Regions from separate parts of the Homo sapiens genome. Here regions 1, 2, 3 and 4 are each linked to region 5. Evidence: fine-mapped expression QTL. A gene starts in region 5. Each other region holds a variant in brackets. All regions are shown on one strand. Distances are between the middles of the regions.

Region 1 (4,111 bases), 41 kb after region 5:
ATTTGGTGATACCCAAAGGGTTTTCTGTTTGAATTAACTGATATCTGGTGTAAGGGATTTCATTTTCTTAATAAGAAAAAAAAAGTCAAATATTTAATAGAAACCTACGCAAACGAATTTGCTAATATGTGTTTTTACAAATGACATAAAACTGCTCTAGAGAAAGGGGCTTCTAAGCAGTTTTGTTTTCCTAACCATCTATTGTTCACACTGCATTAAGCTGGAAGACCAAATTTTACATTTTTCTCCACTATTGCTGTTACAGCAGCAAAAGCAGCAGAAAGGCTGGCAGAGGGGGCTGCCAGCTGGGCACAAGGCCAAGCTCTGCTCCCCCAGAGTCATCTTTCATTTCAGCAATGGTGCAGCATATTCAACAGTTTAGAAATAGGTCAGCAAACCACATTTTGTGGGGCAACTGCTTCCCCATAGTGGCCTGACTCGGCTCCAACCCACAGGGTGAGAAGGGTTGTACAGCTCCACAGAGCCAGGCACAAACCTGAGCATTCCCCCCTGCTACATGCTGCTCTCTGGGCAGACACCAGTTCATACTAGGTCAAAGCCATGCCACTGCTCTATCCAACACAAGTGAACACACCAAATCCAAAAGCCAGAAGCTCTGGCCCCATCTCCAAATTACCACCTGTGTCCCTTCTGACAAAGAGAGGGCGGAACAGTAACACTCCTTGAACATTGGTGACAAGCCACAGCTGCTTCCAAATAAGAACATTCTCTCCTTTAAATCCTGTCAGCCCTGCAGAGGTTGCTGCTTGCTTCTTCTTTCTGATCCTAACTTCCTCTCAGGAGACGGTCTAGCCTGCACCCTCAGAGGGTGCAATGTAATCCCACCCATAAAGAGTCATCCTGGGACATAAAGGCAGCCAGCCCCCTCCTAGGCACACTCCAGAGCTTCCCCCACATACAAATATTTTAGCAAACTTCTCTTATGCTGTCAGTGACTTTCCTTGAGTCACAGTGATTTGGTTCAGAAGTATTACGTTGGCACCAGAGATGTTTTAGTCAAGAGGAAATTGAATGAAGATAACAAGTTCAGCAAAACACAATTATTTTCACATCACTGAGGAAAGGGAAAGAGAGAGAGAGATGGACAAGGGAGGGAGAAATGGAAGGAAGGAAAAGAGTTTAATAATTAAGATTTGTTAAAATACTGTATCATTCTGAATTCTCCTTTTTCAATACTGCAGGTCAAATACTCTGATGTCACACCCAAGAAATAATAAAAAATGTCCAGAAAAGCTATAAATTCTTTGGACACAAATTAGGTATTGAGGAATACAGCCTCATAAGATAAAGAGTTTTCCCAAAGCTCAAAGTGAAAAAGAGGGAAAGATATCTAGCTTAGAGCCCAACCAAAAACATGGCTTTTAAAACAAAGAAATAAACAAACAAAAACAACCAAATACCCAATACTATCAAAACAGAGAAAAACCCAAAATATCCATTAAAAACAACATCAATCCACTGGGACAGTGCTTTTTAAAAAATTACTGGCAGTTGAGCACACATTTCATATTTTTTTTCAAAAGTGGAATCTGCCTAAACACATTGAGTGAGCACTGAAGCCCACCTTAGTGTGCTGTATAAGCTGGTTGGATAGTTAGTGGTTTCCCCATAATATTAAAAAAGAGAGACAGGGCCTAAGCACTCTCTCAGAAGGCACAGCTTGCAAACATCATCCAGTGAGTGGGGTTAGAGGTATCAGTCGGGTCACGGTATTAGTTGGCTTTGACAATTCAAAATGCAGCAAGCAAGCTGCAAGTCCAAGCTTTGCTGTGGGCAGGAATAACACCTGCCCACTAAACAGAAAATTCTGCATGGACCATAGGAGACAACTCTGGATCCTTCAGAGAAATCCTAGGTTGAAGGAAAAACAAGAGCGTTAGACATGTTCTTAAATATTTCTTTTTGCAAACATCCCACTCAAAAGCTACAGGGTCTACACTTAATATTTTCTCCAAACTGAAGGCTAATGAGTTTAATTAAGAATGTGTGACTCTACCAAATAAACATCTGCCTGATATAATCTCGTTCATTAAATCATCTTAATGGCCGTAACAGCTAACAGTAAGTACATATTTTGTGCTGCTCTAAGTTATTTATGTACATTATTTATCCTCACAATAACCAGTATATGAGGTACTACTCCTACCATTTTACAGAGTAAGAATCTGCAGCCTACATAGTTCATTTGCCCGAGGACTAATATATAAGCTATTAAGCAGCAAAACTGGGAATGGAACCCAAGCCCAGCTGAATGCAGAACTCATGCTCCTACCACCACCGCCCCTCTCAACACTCAATGTTTACTAAAAGCCGACTCAGCACAAGGCACTGTCATTTTTCGGAAGATGAGAAGAACAGGAGACAGAAGGCCACAAATACACTAAGTCTGACCTTTGTCTTCTAGAAGAAAAACTAGTTACAGAGATAAGACAA[T/C]ATGTGAAGTAAATACAGTAAATCATACTAAGTGTCAATATTTTTGTAGCATTAATAAGTTCAAAGGAAAAAGTATTATATTTGGCTGTGTTAGCCAGAGAAAGTTTCAAAGAGGAGGTGAGATTTAGGCTAGACTTTGAAGAATGGGTAAGATTTTGACTACTGAAAATAATGGCCATAATAAGTAGGTGCTAAATCAGTGGTTCTCATGTGGAGATGACTTTGCCTCCTCACCCACCATGGGACATTTGGCAATGTCTAGAAGCACTTTTACTTATCACAACTGGGGGAAGGATGCTCCCAGCATCGATGGGGTAAAGGCCAGGAAGGCTGCTCATCATACAGTGCACATGGCAGCTCCTACAACAAAGCATTATCTGAACCAACATGTCAGTAGTGTGCCAAGGTTGAGAAATCCTGTACTAAATAATAGTCTTTTTGGATTATGTTGTTGATCACAGTAATAAAATTACATTATCTTCTTCAAAGAATATGTTACTTTTATTATAAACATCACTATCAAAAAATCTGAGGTTGTATATTCATTGTTGTATAAAAGAAATACATGGCAGGCACCTGGATCTGTGGGCTTGGAGACTGCCAATGTCTGAAGAGAGTTCAGACCTGGCATTGCCAGGCTGGAAGTAGTTATCATACAGAGAGCAGAGCTGAGCAGTGGAAGGAGACCAAGCTGCAAAGAGGCAGGAGAAGCAGGTGCAGAAACGAACAGAACTTAAGAGCAGAACTTAAGATAGAGCATTGAAAAAAATAAAGATGTAGTGGAATAGGCAAACAACAGTAAGCCACTGCAGATAAGGAAAAGAATTAAAGAGGAAGAAGAACGAGAATAATGTAGCATCATAACACCAGGAAGGCATTTCCAGATAGAGGAAGTGACCAGGAGAGAGTAAAGTGAAAATGCCATTGCCTGATCCAATTGAGGGTCATTCATTATCTCGACTTCTCTGAACTACTAACATTTTTGAGAATCTAATTAGAACCATATATTCTCTCCCCCAGAAAAATACACATATGTACCTACACAAAAGATTGCATCAACAATACCGGGAACTTTATTAGACCATTTAGGAAGTCCACAGATGACAAGGTCAACAATCCCTGCTCTAAAGCTTATTGGTGAAATATTAGACTGGTTTTTAAAAAACGTCTTTCTTTCTTTCCAAGGTAGAGCTGTCAATACAGAAAGGTATTATTTCCGCATGTCTTTCAAAAATGACAGCAACAAAAGTTGTAACTGATACAAAACAATGTAGCCTTCAAAAATAACTTATGCTTGGTTTTGATTCATGGACATACAGAAATATTTAGACACAAAAAACTCAAACCCCCATCTTGTCTCAATTAGACAGCCCAGCCTGGAAGACAGAAGCAACGAGGAAAGAAAAGAGAGTTTAGATAATTCATTCAAGGATAAGTAAGAAGAATATACTGAAATCTAATTTTCCAGAAAAGAATTTATCCATAAGGATTAGGCTTTTGATCTCTGCCTATTGCTGATGTCTCAAATAGTAATTATGCTCATATCCCAGTGATAAAACAATCATGTCAAACCAGACTCACTTCAGCTGCCACATGAGCCTTATATAACAAGACCAGGTTTCAGCCCGTTTTCTACAGTAACAACTATAACCACTTG
Region 2 (4,117 bases), 150 kb before region 5:
GCCCACCAATGAACTCCAGCTCGTGTTCCAAGATGCCCTCCCCGCAAGCCGCCTCCCTGAGTTGATCACATCCTCCTTGAGCCACAGCCCTAATCAGCATTGACCTCTGTTGGAACCCTTATCACCCACACGACTTTATGCGCTCCCTCCCCTCCCCTGCATCCTCCCTAAACCATGACAGTCTGGAGAGGGGGCCATGACTTCGGGGCCTTCACGTCTGCCCACTTCATGCGCTCTCAGCTCAGGAAACATTTAGAAAATGCAACGATGTGCCGTGCCTTCATCTTCTCCTCCTGAACGTTCCTCTAATCTAATTCTAAATCATTCCACTGTCTTTGGAGATACATTTAAGTGCTCTACTGAATGTTCAACACACTTTGTGGTCCTCCCCTGTGATGAGGAGGTGGTGGTACTTCAGCCCCCAAGAGGCAGTTTCACTGGCTCAAAGCACTCTGACACCAGCCACTGAATCACACTACTCCATCCCTTCTCCACCCCTCCCATTGGAACATTCAACACACATTGGCCAGGTCATTAAGCAAAGACAGATAAATTGGAGCTTCAAAATTCTGTAAGCCAGAGCCGCCCAAAGTAGCCAGTCCTTGAACTAAATTTCACCAACCCACAATAAGAAACTTGGGCCAAGATCCGGTCACCACACCTAGCTTAGTTTACGCGAACATTGTTTCCATAGCAAGACTTTCTCAACAAAGGAAGCAATACATTGATTTAGATTCTGGTGTAAGCGCCATATCTAATTACAAACCCATTACAAACAGTTCTGGGACTGATGTGGGCCCGTAGATTGCACTTGGAGTGGGACTGCTCCAAATCACACTAAGGTGGAATGTTCTCTGGACTTCTTTTTGGTAGAATCTGGCCAAGGAGCAGATAAAGACAATTGAAGTGAGGAGCTAGGTAGGCTAGAAAACTAAAAGGAGCTGAACTTATTATCCTGAGGCTTATTTTGTATATTTTCATGGAGTAGAAGGGGTCAAAGGTGGAAATAATAGAAAAGCAGAGGCGTAGCCTGAAGAAAAACTTAGTTACAGGTATGTATTTGTAGCTGCCATAGTTCATACTTGGTTTGAGAGCTGAGCTGGACCGAGAAGCTTTCCATCACCCTCCACTTTTCCTGGCTCCTTGGCTCCTAACCTTGCAAGAATAACCCCCTTTGTGTGTGTGTGTGTGTGTGTGTGTGTGTGTGTGTGTGTGTGTGTGTGTGTATGTGTGTGTGTGTGACGGAGTTTTGCTCTTGTTGCCCAGGCTGGAGTGCAATGGTGCGATCTTGGCTCACTGCAGCCTCCACCTCCCGGGTTCAAGCGATTCTCCTACCTCAGCCTCCCGAGTAGCTGGGATTACAGGCATGTGCCACCATGCCCGGCTAATTTTGTATTTTTAGGAAAGATGGGGTTTCTCCATGTTGATCAGGCTGGTCTCGAACTCCAACATGAGTTCGAGAGGTTATCCGTCCGCCTCAGCCTCCCAAAGTGCTGGGATTACAGGTGTGAGCCACCGTGCCCGCCCGACCAGGATAACCCTTTTAACAGTCACGACCAGCCTCACGGGGGAGCTTTGGGGAGACGGCGTGGGCAGGAGGAGGAGGCAGGTCCAACCCAACATGGCCTGGAACTATGTAATTGCCAATCGTGGCCACTAGGTGGCAAAACAGCTCTAGGCACAGCTGTTCCCAGAGGGGAGCAGGGAAAGGAAAAGAAGCAGGATCTGCCCAGAAGTGAGGTCCGTAGGAAATTCCAGGAAAGCCGGAGTCCTGATGGTTAGATGCCAAAGGCCCTCCTGTCCTCAAGCGGCCTGGATACTTACACGAGCTGCAGGTACTTGAAGGTAGACAGCTGTCCCGGAACCAGCGTGAACTGGTTCCCGTCCAAATAGCTGCAGAGAGAACACAGCGGCGTTAGTGCCCATCTCCACCTCTGGTGGTGCCCCATGCTGGGGACAGCCTTCCCTGCAGCCAGGGACTTCGCTCTCATTTCCTCTCCTCCACATAGGCCACACGATGGGCCCAGAATCACTTATGGGAGGAGAAAATATGTACGTTGTTGAAGCCATCTGGGGAGGTGCCACCCAGAGGACTTGGTAAAAAGCCAATAGTCACGTGGCCTCTCTCGGTTCCCTTCT[C/T]GCTTCCCTTCTCACCCTCCCAGCCTCCTCCTTGTCCATGGACACTCCCTGGGCCCCTGCCTTCCCCTCCCTGCTCTGCTCTTTCCTGGCCAAATAGATCTGATTTGCACGTTACCGGGCCCTGCCAGCTCCCAGGGCCCCCTGTCCACCTGCTGGCATGGGCTGTGAAGCTGATTCACAGCCAGACTGCCCAACCAGTTCCCCCTCATTCCATCAGCACCCCTCTGCCTTCCTGCCTTCCAGGCTCCGCACCCTGATGTCGCTTCTCCTCCTCCCTCTGCAGCCAGTGCCACCGCTGCTCTCTCACAGCTTGCTTTCCTTGCACTCTCATGCCACCCGCCGACTGTGCACCACCACCCATGCCCGGGCTCCTGCTGCAGCCTCTTCTGTCTGTTCTCTGCACCTTGGACCTCCCTTCTGGCCTCCACTCTACTCACTGCTATCCAAGTCACTGTCCTTAAAACCAAGCCCACCGAAATCCTCCTAAGCCCGAAGCTTCCCAAGGTTCCCATTTCTACAGGATAGAGCTTGGGATTCAAGATGCTCTGAACCTCCCCCTCTTCCCTTCATTGTTGACCATTCATGCCTCCAGCCTGAAGGTGCTAAGCAGTGGCCCAATGCCAGGAGCTGAGCCAAGCTGAGCTCCAGCACAGGATCTCCACCCCCCAACTAACTACAGCCTGCAGGACAGCTCTCCCCCACTTCCCAAAGCCCCAGAGAGGAGCAAAAGGAGGGCTGTGCTCATCCTTACCCCTCGCTCTGCATCATACAAACTGACTTCCCACCCATCTCGTTTGATCCTCGAGGCAGTCCTCGTCCACATACCCAAGTAGTCCCATTTCACAGATGACAAAACTGAGGTTTAGAGAAGTTAAAAGATTTTCGCAGGCTCTGAACTTCACCATCTTCAGTCAAAGAAGGTAGGCTGCCCCACCCATCCCATTATTCTCAGGGCTGCTAGGAGGCTCCAAGGAGAAAGCAAGGACTCATGAGGTTTGTAGGACACTAACTCTGCAGTAGAAAACAGGGTGAAGACGGGGCAGGCCAGGCCCAGGAAAAGGCCCGCAGTGGTTGATGTGCTTGTGAAGAAAAGGCCAGCCTTGCTGGTAATGCAAGAAATAACAAATAGAAGCCTCATCGCTGGTCCTGGGGGTGGGGGGAGAAAAGCTCAGCTTTGGAGGCCTGGAGGGATCAACCCCAGAGCACAGGAAGAGGTCAGAGGTCAGGAGCTGGCCAGAGTCTTTCATTGGGAGGTGTCTGCTGAAGAAGTCCCAGCTCTCCATTCCTGTTTGTCAAATGCATCTATGTCCAATCCTCCACATGTGCTCAGATACCAAATACCAATCAGCCAGGATTTCAGCACCATACTCAGTGCTGACCCAGGGAAGCAAGAAGGCCACCTTCTCACATGGTCAATGGGAGTGCAAAGGAAACAGATTTTCTTGGAAGACCATCAGGCAAAAGGCAGCAAGAGTCCTAAAAACGCACCGCTCTCTGACTGGCGATTTCAGTGAGGGGGTGTTAGCACTGGTGCTGTTTATGACAGTAAAAAAAAATTGGAAACAAATATCCAACAAAAGGGGTTTTGTTATCTGGGTCATAGTAGATTCATGTGAAGAACACTACACTGCTGGTGCAAAAATCACATTTGTGTCTTCATGACACAGGAGCCTGAGACAATGACAGGCGGGAAAGCAAGGTTCTCCTCATTTTAAAGGCGGAGCTTAGTTTAAAGGGAGGAAGCACTCGCTGCCATGCGGTCATCAGGTGACCGCAGAGGGAGAATCAGAGAGAAGCTCAAAGCCTTTCTGGAGGCAGTGTTTTCTGCAAAGCCCGAACTCCAGCTCCTAGTCAGCTAATGCCTGCTCTTGGTCACCTCCTCCTCCCATGGCTAGGCCCCAGCCCCTCAGGAAATGCCCCCACTGTCCCCGTCCTGTGGACCCACGTGAAGGGGGCAAGGCCTTGAGCTACTCACAGT
Region 3 (4,117 bases), 63 kb after region 5:
CAACACAGGGAGACCCCCAACTCTACAAAAAATTACTAAAAAATGGCCAGCACGGTGGCTCATGCCTGTAATCCCAGCACTATGGGAGGCCAAGGTGGGTGGATCACCTGAAGTCAGGAGTTCGAGACCAGCCTGACCAACATGGTGAAACCCCATCTCTACTAAAAATACAAAATTAGCCGGGTGTGGTGGCGTATGCCTGTAATCCCAGGTACTCAGGAGACTGAGGCAGGAGAATCGCTTGAACCCAGGAGACAGAGGTTGCAGTGTGCCAAGATCACACCATTGCACTCCAGCCTGGGCAACAAGAGCGAAACTCCATCTCAAAAAAAAAAAAATTACAAAAAAATTAGCCGGGCATGGTGGTGCATGCCTGTGGTCCCAGCTACTCAGAAGGCTAAGGGGGAGAATCACTTGAGCCCAGAAGTTCAAGGCTGCAGTGAGCCATGTTCATACCACTGCACTCCAGCCTAGGCAACAGAGCAAGACCCTGTCTCAAAAAAGAAAGAAAGAAATACCATTTAGAATTACTATGGACTAGAATCCTGTGACAACTACCCTGATACTGTCTTAGTAGATGTGCAAAATAATACAACTACCATAGAGGAAAACTGGGTTTGTAACATCTAATAAAATTACATTTGCACTTACCCTTTTACCCAGAAACCTCACTACTGGTAACATATCCTGAGTATGTAACTTCAGAAATGCAAAACACACTCGTATAAGATTAATCAAAAAATTGGATACAACCCAAATGTTCTTTAATAGAGAACTGGTTGAATCAACTTTCATACATCCATACAATACAGTACTATGAAGAAAGGAAGGGAGAGGAGGCAGGGAGGGAAAGAAAGGAAGGAACAGAGGGAAAGAAAGGAAAGGAAGGGAGGGAGAGAAAAAGAAAGGATGGAGAGAAGGAAGAAACACTTAATGAATTGATATGGAAGGATTTCTAGGATCTACTGTTGAGTGAGAAAAGTGAAGTAAATGTATATTTGTGTAAGAAAAAACCAGGAAATAGGAATATACACACAAATGTACATTTACTTGTTTTTATAAAAAGAAACACTAACAGGATAACCCAGAAAACAATGAAAATAATTAGAAAGGATTGAGATTTCTCTAAGTATATCTTTTAATGTGGTTTTGACTTTTTTTTTTTTTTTTTGAGACGGAGTCTCACTCTCTCGCCCAGGTTGGAGTGCAATGGCATGATCTCGGCTCACTGCAACCTCCGCCTCCCAGGTTCAAGTGATTCTTCCGCCTCAGCCTCCCAAGTAGCTGGGATTACAAGCACCCACCATCATGCCCGGCTAATTTTTGTACTTTTGTAGAGACGGGGTTTCACCCCGCCTTTGGGAGGCCAAAGCGGGTAGATCACTTGAGCCCAGGAGTTTGAGACCAGCCTGGGCAACATGGTGAGACCCATCTCTACAAAAAATACAAAAATTAGCCGGGTGTGGTGGCGCTCACCTGTAGACCCAGCTACTCGAGAGGCTGAGGTGGGAGGATCGACTGGTCCCAGGAGGCAGAGGCTGCTGTGAGCCCAGATCGTGCTACTGCACTCCAGCCTGGGTGACAGAGTGAAAATCTCCAAAACAAGAAAAAAAAAATCTGAAATTTGTAATATAAGAAAAAAAGAAATACAAATACAAAATACAAGAAGCCAAGAAAAAGTTGCGTAGTATTAAATCTGAATTGGTGGTATTAATATGAACTTACAATTGCTTTAAAAAAATGTTTTAATCTATTTCTTTGCCCTCAAGCAGCCTAGAAGCAATGACACACCAGAAACAATGAATATACCTAGTATCACTCAGAAGCCAAGGTTCCCTGGAGAAATAATTACTCCGATCTAGGCCAGCGCAAGTACAAAGTGAGCTGGGAACATTTTATACCAGAAAGGAAACACTCAAAGACAATACAGTCCTGTCAAAAAGATGTAGAAGCCGGTTAACAAGGGCTATCACCGGCCAAATCTGGGATAATTTAAATATCAATTTTGTTTGTTTGTTTGTTTGTGACAGGGTCTCACTCTGTCACCCAGGCTGGAGTGCAGTGGCATAATCTCGGCTCAGTGCAACCTCCACCTCCCGGGCTCAAGCCATCCTACCACCGTAGCCTCTGAGTAGCTGGGACCACAGGAGTGTGCCATCACGCCCGGCTAATTTTTTGTATTTTTCATAGAGATGGGGTTTTGCCACATTGCCCAGGAGAATATCAACATTATAAGTAAAATTGACTAACACTTTGGAAAAATAAAAATCCATGAGTTTATATTAATATTCATTTTTAAAGGGAGAGAGAATGAGACAAAGAAAAGCTATTCTCCAAAGAAGAAACTCAGCTTATAAAGGCTAAATGACAAAATTAGAAAA[T/C]CTTTATTTTTAATACCCAATAGATTCCAGCAGGATTATCAACGGATGCTAAAACCATTATTAGGTAATCACTCTACAGGTTATTTACTAACCGCAAAGGGGAAAAAAATTTACCTTTGTAACTGAAAGATCTGGCAGTTAGCAAAATTAACATCATGAAGAGAGAAAATCAAACAATCTGTGTCTCCTCATGTGAGGCAATGTGACGCACACAAACATCACCTGTGAAGTATCTTTGCCAAAAATGCTTAATCTGAATCTGATTAAGACTGTAGACCTGGCTTCTACTTTACAGGAACTACATGGAAGGTGATAGAGGAACAAGTTAAATAACTTGAGAAAACAATAAGACAAACTTAGAATGTGAGACATTCTACAACACAGTTAACTTGATGCTTCAATAAATGACATGAAGAAAAAGCATGAGTGTGTAGATTAAAAGTGTCATAATAATTAAAACCAGTACAGAAGCTTTGATTGGCCTATATTGAAAAAAAGTATGAAATACATTCTTAGGACAGCTGGGGAATTTGAATATGTACTGAAAGCTAGTTGATAAGAAATTCTTTTTAGTTTCTTAGATGTGATAATAGTAGTGTGATTCTTTTTTTTTTTTTTTTTTTGAGACGGAGTCTGGCTCTGTCGCCCAGGCTGGAGTGCAGTGGCATAATCTCAGCTCACTGAAAGCTCCACCTCCCGGGTTCACGCCATTCTCCTGCCTCAGCCTCTCCCAGGGGCCTGCCACCGCGCCTGGCTAATTTTTTGTATTTTTAGTAGAGACGGGGTTTCACCGTGTTAGCCAGGATGGTCTCGATCTCCTGACCTCATGATCCGCCCGCCTCAGCCTCCCAAAGTGCTGGGATTACAGGCGTGAGCCACCGCACCCGGCCAGTAGTGTGATTCTTAAGAGAATATGTTTATTATTGGGAGATGCATACATAAGTACTTAGGAATGAAGTATCATGGTGTCTGCAACTACTTTTAGTGATTCAGCCAAAAAAGTGTATGAACATATATAGAGAGAGATAAAGCTAATATGGCAATATGATAACATTTGTTGACACTGGGGGAGAGTTATATATGAGTATTCACTGTTTTACTCTTTTAACTTTTCTCTATATTTGAAATTTTTCAAAATAAAGGTCTTCAAAGAGTCTCATGACAAAAACATGATATGTATAGTTTAATTTCTTTTTCTTTTTTTTTTTTTGAGATGGAGTCTCGCTCTGTCGCCAGGCTGGAGTGCAATGGCGCAATCTTGGCTCACCACAACCTTTGCCTCCCGGGTTCAAGTGATTCTCCTGCCTCAGCCTCCAAGTAGCTGAGACTACAGGCGCCCACCACCACGCCCGGCTAATTTTTGTAGTAGAGATGGGGTTTCACCGTGTTGACTAGGCTGGTCTTGAACTCCTGACCTCAGGTGATCCACCTGCCTTGGCCTCCCAAAGTGCTGGGATTACAGGAGTGAGCCACCACGCCCAGCCAGTTTAATTTCTAAATTGAAAAACTATAAAACGGAGCTTAAGACCAACAGAAATTTTCTCCAAACAAGAATATATCTATTCTATTTCATTTAAAAAAAAGAAAGAAGGCCAAGAGCGGTGGCTCATGCCTGTAATCCCAACACTTTGGGAGGCCAAGGCAGGAGAAATGCTTGAGCCCAGGAGTTCAACACCAGCCTGGGCAACATGGTAGTACCCTGTCACCACAAATAATAGAAAAATTAGCCAGGCATG
Region 4 (4,117 bases), 420 kb before region 5:
GCAAAGATTTGAACAGATATTTATACACCCATGTTCATAGCAGTATTATTCACAATAGCCGAAAGGTGAAAACAACTGAAATGTTCATCAACTGATGGATGAACAAACAAAATGTGTGATATACATACAGATATATATACAGTGTGATATACATACTCAAATGTTCATCAACTGATGAATGGATAAACAAAATGCGTGATATACATACAATGTAATATGAGTCAGCCTTTAAAAGGAAGGACATTCTGACACATGCTACAACATGGATGAACCATGGATGAGATACGCTAGGTGAAGTAAGCCAGATGCAAAAGGACAAACATTGCATGATTCCACTTATATGAGGTAACTAGAGTAATAAAATTCACAGAGACAGGAAGTGCAACAATGGTTACTAAGGACTGGGGTTGGGGGAAGAGAATCAGGAGTTATTGTTTAATGCAGCAGTCCTCAATCTTTTTGGCACCAGGGACTGGTTTTGTGGAAGACAATTTTTCCATGGACAGGTATGGGAGGGGAAGATATTTTTGGGATGATTCAAGGGCCTTACATTTACTGTGCACTTTATTTCTGTTATGATTACATTCTAATACATAATGAAATCATTATACAACTCACCATAATGTAGAATCCTTCGGAGCCCTGAGCTTGTTTCCCTGCAACTAGGCAGTCCCATCCGGAGGTGATGGGAGACAGTGACAGATCATCAGGCATTAGATTCTCATCAACAGTGGGCAACCTAGATCCCTCATATGTGCAGTTCACAGTAGAATTCATGCTTCTATGAGAATGTAATACCGCTGCTGATCTGACAGGAGGCGGAGCTCACGTGGTAACGCAAATGACTGGGAGCGGCTGTAAATACAGATGAAGGTTTGCTCCCTCACTCGTCACTCACCTCCTGCTGTGTGACGCGGTTCCTAACAGACCACGGACTGATACAGGTCTCTGTACCCTGGTTTAATGGGTACCGGGTTTCAGCTTGGGAAAATGAAATGTTCTGCAGATAGATGGATGTGATGGTTGCACAACAATGTGAATATATTTATGCTACAGAACTATACACTTTTAAAGGTTTTAAAATAAGTTTTATATGAAACTGACATGTTTTCAGAAAAAAATACATTTCATATTATGTGTAATTTACTACATTACATGAGTATAATAATAAAAACCTAAAACTCAACAGATGGTTGGGAGGCCTAGGCGGGTGAATCACTTGAGGCCAGGAGTTACAGACCAGCCTGGCCAACATGGTGAAACCCCATCTCTACTAAAACTATAAAAATTAGCCAGGTGTGGTAGTGCGTACCTGTAATCTCAGCTACTTGGGAGGCTGAGGCAGTAGAACTGCTTGAACCCAGGGGACGGAGGTTGCAGTCTGCAGAGATCACACCACTGCCCTCTAGCCTGGGAAGCAGAGTGAGACTCAGTCTCAGAAAACAAAAAAACAAAACAAAAACCCTCAACAGATGGGTTTATACTTTATTAGCTACAGTCAAATCAATCAGTGAATGGAGCAGGGGTCAGAAGAAAATTCCCAGAATGCAGCACAGAGGAACAGAAGTCACCCCAAAGAATAATATAGAATTTATGCTCTAGTCTCTGGCATTGGTTTTATGAGTCCTATTTTGGGGTTTCCCCTTTTATAGTAGAAGTTAGGCTTAATATGAGCTACCTTACATGCTCACCCATAGGAAAAAGAATGCCAGCTTTGACATAAGTATGCATATGCATTGTTCCATTTAATTTAATTAATTTAATTTCATTTCATTTATTTAATGATTCTAAGAGAGAGGAACCATGAATCCATTTTTGGGATGGATACTGAAGTCAAGTAGCTTACCCAAGGCCACACACCAAAAAGCCAAGATTCAACACAGGCTAATACAACTCCAAGCCTGCGTTCTTTCTAATACATCAGACTGTGCCTCAAGTGTTTGTTTATTCATTCATTCATTTAATAATTACTGTAAAAAATTAATTTAAAAATAATTATTGTGTATCTATTACAAGTTAAGACTAGGGGCCAGGCAAGGTAGCTCACGCCTGTAATCCCAGCACTTTGGGAGGCTAAAGCAGGCAGATTGCTTGAGCTCAGGAGTTCAAGACCACCCTGGCCAACATGGTGAAACCTTG[T/C]CTCTACTAAAAATACAAATAATAATAATAATAATAAGCTGGGCATGGTAGCATGCGCCTGTAATCCCAGCTACTCGGGAAGCTGAGGAAGGAGAATCACTTGAACCCGGGAGGCAAAGGTCACAGTGAGCCAAGATCACACCACTGCACTCCAACCCAGGTAACAGAGAGAGACTCTGTCTCAAAAAAAAATAATAAATAAAACAATAAAAAAAATCTTTTTCAATGGCTCCTCTTCTTCCCCAACTTATTGACACTGGTTTGGGATTAATATGTTTCCATTTCTTTTTTTTTTTTCATGCCCTCCAGACTGGAGTGCAGTGGCACGTTCATGGCTTACTGCCACCTTGACCTCCTGGGGCTCAGGTGATCCTCCCACCTCAGTCTCCTAAGTAGCTGAGACTACAGGTTCATACTACCATGCCCAGCTAATTTTTATATTTATTGTAGAGACAAGGTTTCACCATGTTGGTCTCAAACTCCTGGGCTCATTGATCTATCTACCTTGGCCTCCCCAGTATGCTGGGATTATAGGTGTGAGCCACTGCACCCAGCCAATAAGTTTCCGTTTTGTTGTTGTTTGAGATAGAGTTTCACTCTGTTGCCCCGACTGGAGTGCAGTGGCCCAATCTTAGCTCCCTGCAACCTCCGCCTCCGGGGTTCAAGTGATCCGCCCACCTCAGCCTCCCAAGTAGCACTTTGGGAGGTCAAGGCAGGCGTATAACCTGAAGTCAGAAGTTAGAGATCAGTCTGGCCAACATGGTGAAACCCCATCTCTACCAAAAATACAAAAAAATTAGCTGGATGTGGTGGCGGGTGCCTGTAATCCCAGCTACTCGGGAGGCTGAGGCAAGAGAATCATTTGAACCCAGGAGGCAACCCAGTTGCAGTGAGCCAAGATTGTGCCACTGTACTCCAGGCTGGGCAACAGAGCAAGAGTCCCTCTCAAAAAAAAAAAAAAGAAAAAAGAAAAAAGAAAGAAAGAAAGAGTGTGCTTATTGTGGGGCTAGCCAAGCTGGAGGATGAGAGATAATTCTCAAATCCACCTCATCAAGAATTTGGAGGGTAGGGTTTTTCATGGATAGCTCAGTGGGCAGGGGGCTAGAGAATGAGGAGTGCTGATTGATTGGGTCAGCGATGAAATCATAGGGGATGAAGCTGTCTTCTTGTGTTGAGTCAGTTCCTGGGTGGGGGTCACAAGACCAACTGAGCTAGTTTCTTGGTATGGGTTACTGGTCTAAGTGGAGCCAGCTGGTCCATCAGAACGTAAGGTCTGAAAAATACCTCAAACACCAATCTGATATTTTGCAATAGTGCTGTTGTCTATAGGAGCAACTGGGGAGGCTACAAACCTTGTGACCTCCAGCTACATGACTCCTGAACCATAATTCTAACCTTGTTAGTTTTACAAAGGAGGTTTCAATCCCTGAGCAAGGAGTGCATTAATTTTGGGAAGCACTTGTTGTCATCTTTGTTTTAAAGTTAAAGTATAAGCTAAATCCCTACCATAGTCAGTTTGGCCTACCCCCAAGAATGAACAATGACAGTTTGTGACGTTAGAAGCAAGATGGAGTCAGTGTTGCATTTCTCTCACTATCTTAATTTTTGCAAAGGCAGTTTCAATCTCACTGTATGCAAATTAAAAAAAAAAACTTTTTGTGTAATAAAGAAAGAGATGAAGAGAAGTGGTTCCCATGAAAACTGTTATTTTTGCCACACAAGTGTAAACTGAAAAGGTTTCTGCAGTTTGTAAGCCAGCACTGCTTAAAAAGACTGTTTCCTGGTTGGGTACAGTGGCTCATGCCTATAATCCAGCACTTTGGGAGGCCAAAGCAAGTGGATCACTTGAGGTCAGGAGTTTGAGACCAGCCTGGCCAATATGGTGAAACCCCATCTCTACTAAAAAAAAAAAAAAATACAAAAAGTAGCCAGGTGTGGTGGCACATGCCTATAGTCCCAGCTACTTGGGAGGCTGAGG
Region 5 (4,117 bases):
GAAAGCAACTAAGGTTCAGAGAAGTTAAGTAACTTGCCCAAGGTCACACAGCTAATAGGTGACAGAGCTGGGGAACCAGGCAGTATAGCTCCCAGAATGCCACCTCTTTCCTCTGTACTAGGAAATTTCATTTTCATCTCACTCTGATCACAAAAGAGCTAAAGAGTTCATGGAAGTCTTAAACACTAAAGGTGGTGAGAGAGTAAAGAGGGAGGAGATGACTTTAAGACTCAAGATTCAAAAGCAAAGAAGAAGGGCTAATGTGTCTTAGATCTAGGCTGCAACCAGGGTAGCAGCTTCAGGAGAAACTCCAGTGGACAAGGCAAGGGGAGCAGGGAGCAGGTACAGAGGGGACAGGCATGGAGGGTGACCAGGCCACTGCGGGGGTCCTCTGGACAGATTTCTGACCCTCAGATCCTCTCTGGGTCCACACAGGATAATGCACACGCTGCCCACAGAAACTCAGTTTGGTACCACCTCTCCCCAGCCCTGTAACACACAAGCATTCACACACACACATACACATGCACCACACACACACACACACACACACACACACACACACACACACTTCCCATCTAGATTGCATCTAGATTGCAAATTCTCTAAAACCTCCACGGGAATTTTTCAGATGCAGCCAAGAAGAGTCTGGGGCAAATGTGTGCTCACTAATTGCTGGCCTTGGTACAGAGTCTGATTCGGGAGACAGCTCTCCTCAGGGTCAGATTTCTGTCTCTGACCAGCTGGGGGCCATGAAAATGTGCTCGAAAGTTATCAAAATATGCACACCTTTCCTGAGAGCCACTGCAGTCACCGAGGAGTGTGGGAAGGAGGAGTAGGTAGGTTTCAAAGGAGCCAGCAGCCTTCTCCAAAGCCCTGTTCAAAAATCTCCTGGTGTAGTCACCTCTGCGAGCAGTACAAAGGCCCTGCATGTGACCAAAATCTACACACACACAGCCCATTACGGGGACTCTCATGGCCTCACGCTATTAAGGTGGCCCCTTAATACTAGGAATTCACACAGAAACACATTCTGCAGGAGAGTCACAGAAAACAAAGTATAAAGGTCTGTAAATACACACACTCAAACACACCCAAACACACACACACACATTCTACTAGCTTACTGGGTCTAGAAAAGAAAAGGATCAAGTTTCCTCAAGAATTCACAAGTGAGACAGAACAGGGGAAGAGAAATGCTATTTTTTTATTACTTGTCATGGTCAATATCTTTAACCTTGGGCCCCCCTCTCCAAGCTCCTGACTTCTTGGCATTATCCACCGGGTTCTCCATCCAAGACACACCTGCCCCTTTTCGGGTGCTGAATGTTACATACCCCAAGCCCCATACCCAAAGCCCTCAGGTCCCATTGTCTGCCTGTGTTGGGGATGGCTGGGTGTGGAGGGAGGCGGGTGAGTAGGGGACCAACGCGTGGCACCTGCAGGGGAAGAATTCTCAAGGCTCTGGGGCAAACAATGGAGAAGAAGGGGCAGACCAGAAACTTCGCCTCCATCCCACCCTGCTGCCCTTCGTCAGGAGCAAGCTCTGGGAGCGGGAATCTGCGCAGCTGGCTCAGAACGCGGCCGTAGCCCCATGTGCCCAAAAGGAGACATTGTGCTTGGCGAGTGTGGGAAGTGTCCCTCCTGGGTGCAAGGAAGGCTTTCTGACACCAGTTCGCAGGCACCCTGGAGGAATAAAGCGCTGGCGCAGTGAGGAGGGCCTGAGGGTGCGGAGTGCAGGGTGCAGGGTGCAGGTGTGAGGACGGAAGCTGACAACCCCGCCGAGGGCCCTTTGAATCCCAGGGATGGGGAAACCACGGCGCTCCTGGCTCCTGGCTCGGGAAAGACCCCGGCAGGCACTGACCCGTCTGTGGGCTGCGGAGCCCGGACGGGCCCCAATGGTCCTGCCCCCACCCCCAAGTCCGGAATTGCGTCTGGGTGGGAGGGCAACCTCGGAGCCAGGGAGCCAGGGGCGGGGACCATACTCACAGGCGCTCGGTGTTCCGAGGTATATTCTTGGGAATGGCCTGCAGCCCCGTGCCGTGGCAGTCCACCGTGGTTCCGGTGCAGGTGCAGAGGGCGGGGCACGCCGAGGCACCCAGGCGCCACGCGGCTGCCCACAGCAGCAGCCAGAGCTCCGGCCGGACCGGCCCCGCCGAGGACCCCCACCCGGGAGTCAGCGCCATGGTGCCCTCACAGCGTCCCGCTCGCGAGCCAGACGGCAGCAGCCGCTGACCATCCCCGTCCGGGGCCGCCTCCAGGTGCAGTCCCGGGGCAGAGCCACCGAAGAGCCCGCGGGCTTGCGCGCGGCGCCCCTGCGGGCTGGGAGGCACCTTGCTCCTCCAAGCGACGGCGCCTGTGCGCGGACGGAGGGAGGGCGCCTTGGGCGGAGGGGGCTCGGCTCCTCTGCCGTTTCGCCGCCTGCGTCTCCCTCTCCCTCCCTCCAGCTCCCAACTGACTGCTGCGAGGAGGAAAATGGGCAGGCCCCGCGCGCGCACGCACCCTGCGCACACACCACACACACACACACGATCACACACACACCCGCGCGCTCGCTCCCACCCGGCAGTCATCCATCAATCGAAAAGCACACATCCAGGGCCAGGCTCCTCCCCGCCCTCCCCCGCCGCAGCCCCCCTCTCCCGACGACCACTCAGCGGCTGCAAGCCGCCTACAGTTTCAAAGGTGGAACCTCCGAGGCGCCGTCAGCGGGCACGGGGCTGCGGGGGATGGGAGAAGAGGGAAGGGGGTGTGACTCGACCCGCCAAGTCCTGGCTGTACACACACACACACACACACACACACACACACACACACACACACGGCGAGGATGCGCACATTTAGACGCACGCACCCCGGCACCCGCGGCCCCAGCTGCTAGTCCAGGGTGGGAGGGAGATCTTATTTTGCCGCTTGGACGCCTTCCCGGGGAGTCAGACCCGTTTCCCCCCATCCCCCGACGGCAGCAGCGGCCTCTCGGCCCCACCCGACTCGCTGTGTCAATTCTTGGTTAAGGGAAACCCTGTGCCTGTGCCCCAGGTAGCATCCTCAAGCCACCAACCTTACTTAGCCTGGACTTTGAGGATGGAGCTTTGTCGGGGGGGAGGGTCCACGAAAGCGCTAGGCGGAGTACAGTCTCCTTCCTACCTCAATGCACCCACTTCTCAGAGGGGAACAAGCTAGCCGCATGCCCAGGATGAGAATGGCTCTGATTGGAACACTTGCTCAGCAGGGCGTATTTGTACCATACAGTTACACGGGCTTCTTCCCCCGTTGTAGAAGAGAGGGACAGACATTAAGGGGACTTGGAAATCTGGCAAACGTCTTCCTCCACTCACACCAGCGTTCCTCCATTTCTGACAGGTGGAAACAGATGAAAATGAATATTCCATCTTGACATCAAAGGAGACAGAGAGGGCTGGCATAGCGCTGGGCGGCCTGCTTGGGAGAGAACCCCACAGGCCAGCCCCGTCAGACCCAGGCCTCACACCCGGCTGGGTAGGGACCTTCGTCACCGTAAGGCATGTGTGGACGTGGGTGTGAACGGGACATCCAGGTGGGGAGAGAATTCTCCTCAACCCCAGAAAAGACGAAAGATCTCCTCAACGCCAAGGACAGCTGTGGCTCGCTGGGGCAGTGTCCAGCAGTCGGGGCCTTGACGTGAGGCTGCTTGGCAAGAGGACACAGCTGGGTAGCCCGAGAAGCACCTCCCGTCTCAGGAGCGGCCTGGGTCCAGACACAGCATGGACGCATTTGGTGGGGAGAGTGTCGGGCAGGGTGGGGATAGGGGAGGTTGATAGACTCCACAAGGTTGAAGCCTTATCACCCACCAGGTACCCAAGGCTCAGGCGTTTTCTTTGCTTTTCTTTTCCATGTTGATGAGAATTTTGCAGTCTCTCTACTGTCATAGCACAGTATGTTACAATTTAGGTGGCTGATTTTATGGGCTTTTGACAGTTCTTTTAAAGTTTTCACACATCCCTGTCCATGACCTCCATCCGGTAAGTGGGTTCTTGAGCATAAGTTCAGTTTCTCAGGGGGCAGGGCTTTCTCAGGGGTGCCTGTGTGGTGGGATATTAGGGAAGCTTCCCACAAACCAGGCCGGAGTCTGAGAGGG

Evidence for each region.
Region 1: its variant is fine-mapped to the expression of SLIT1 in tibial nerve (GTEx, PIP above 0.99).
Region 2: its variant is fine-mapped to the expression of SLIT1 in lung (TOPMed, PIP above 0.99).
Region 3: its variant is fine-mapped to the expression of SLIT1 in whole blood (INTERVAL, PIP above 0.99).
Region 4: its variant is fine-mapped to the expression of SLIT1 in prostate (GTEx, PIP above 0.99).

Annotation. Positions count from the first base shown.
Region 1 is chr10:97,224,261-97,228,371 of GRCh38, forward strand. ARHGAP19 (Rho GTPase activating protein 19) reads right to left here. Exons shown (of 12, transcript NM_032900.6): 12 at 1-1,872. The coding sequence ends at 1,862. All of the region lies in intron 11 of ARHGAP19-SLIT1 (ARHGAP19-SLIT1 readthrough (NMD candidate)), which reads right to left. All of the region lies in intron 2 of LOC105378447 (a long non-coding RNA gene), which reads left to right. Among named protein-coding and RNA genes, the nearest start is that of SLIT1, 40 kb to the left of the region's middle. The variant T/C (reference allele first, on the strand shown) is at 2,455.
Region 2 is chr10:97,035,874-97,039,990 of GRCh38, forward strand. It overlaps SLIT1 (slit guidance ligand 1), which reads right to left. Exons shown (of 37, transcript NM_003061.3): 21 at 4,115-4,117; 22 at 1,825-1,893. Among named protein-coding and RNA genes, the nearest start is that of SLIT1-AS1, 65 kb to the right of the region's middle. RefSeq lists an enhancer at 2,209-2,709. The variant C/T (reference allele first, on the strand shown) is at 2,140.
Region 3 is chr10:97,246,813-97,250,929 of GRCh38, forward strand. All of the region lies in intron 6 of ARHGAP19 (Rho GTPase activating protein 19), which reads right to left. All of the region lies in intron 6 of ARHGAP19-SLIT1 (ARHGAP19-SLIT1 readthrough (NMD candidate)), which reads right to left. Among named protein-coding and RNA genes, the nearest start is that of ARHGAP19, 44 kb to the right of the region's middle. The variant T/C (reference allele first, on the strand shown) is at 2,382.
Region 4 is chr10:96,767,484-96,771,600 of GRCh38, forward strand. No RefSeq gene overlaps it. Among named protein-coding and RNA genes, the nearest start is that of PIK3AP1, 49 kb to the left of the region's middle. The variant T/C (reference allele first, on the strand shown) is at 2,140.
Region 5 is chr10:97,183,489-97,187,605 of GRCh38, forward strand. SLIT1 (slit guidance ligand 1) reads right to left here and starts at 2,471. Exons shown (of 37, transcript NM_003061.3): 1 at 1,990-2,471. The coding sequence starts at 2,186. All of the region lies in intron 11 of ARHGAP19-SLIT1 (ARHGAP19-SLIT1 readthrough (NMD candidate)), which reads right to left. RefSeq lists enhancers at 2,315-2,815, 2,816-3,316.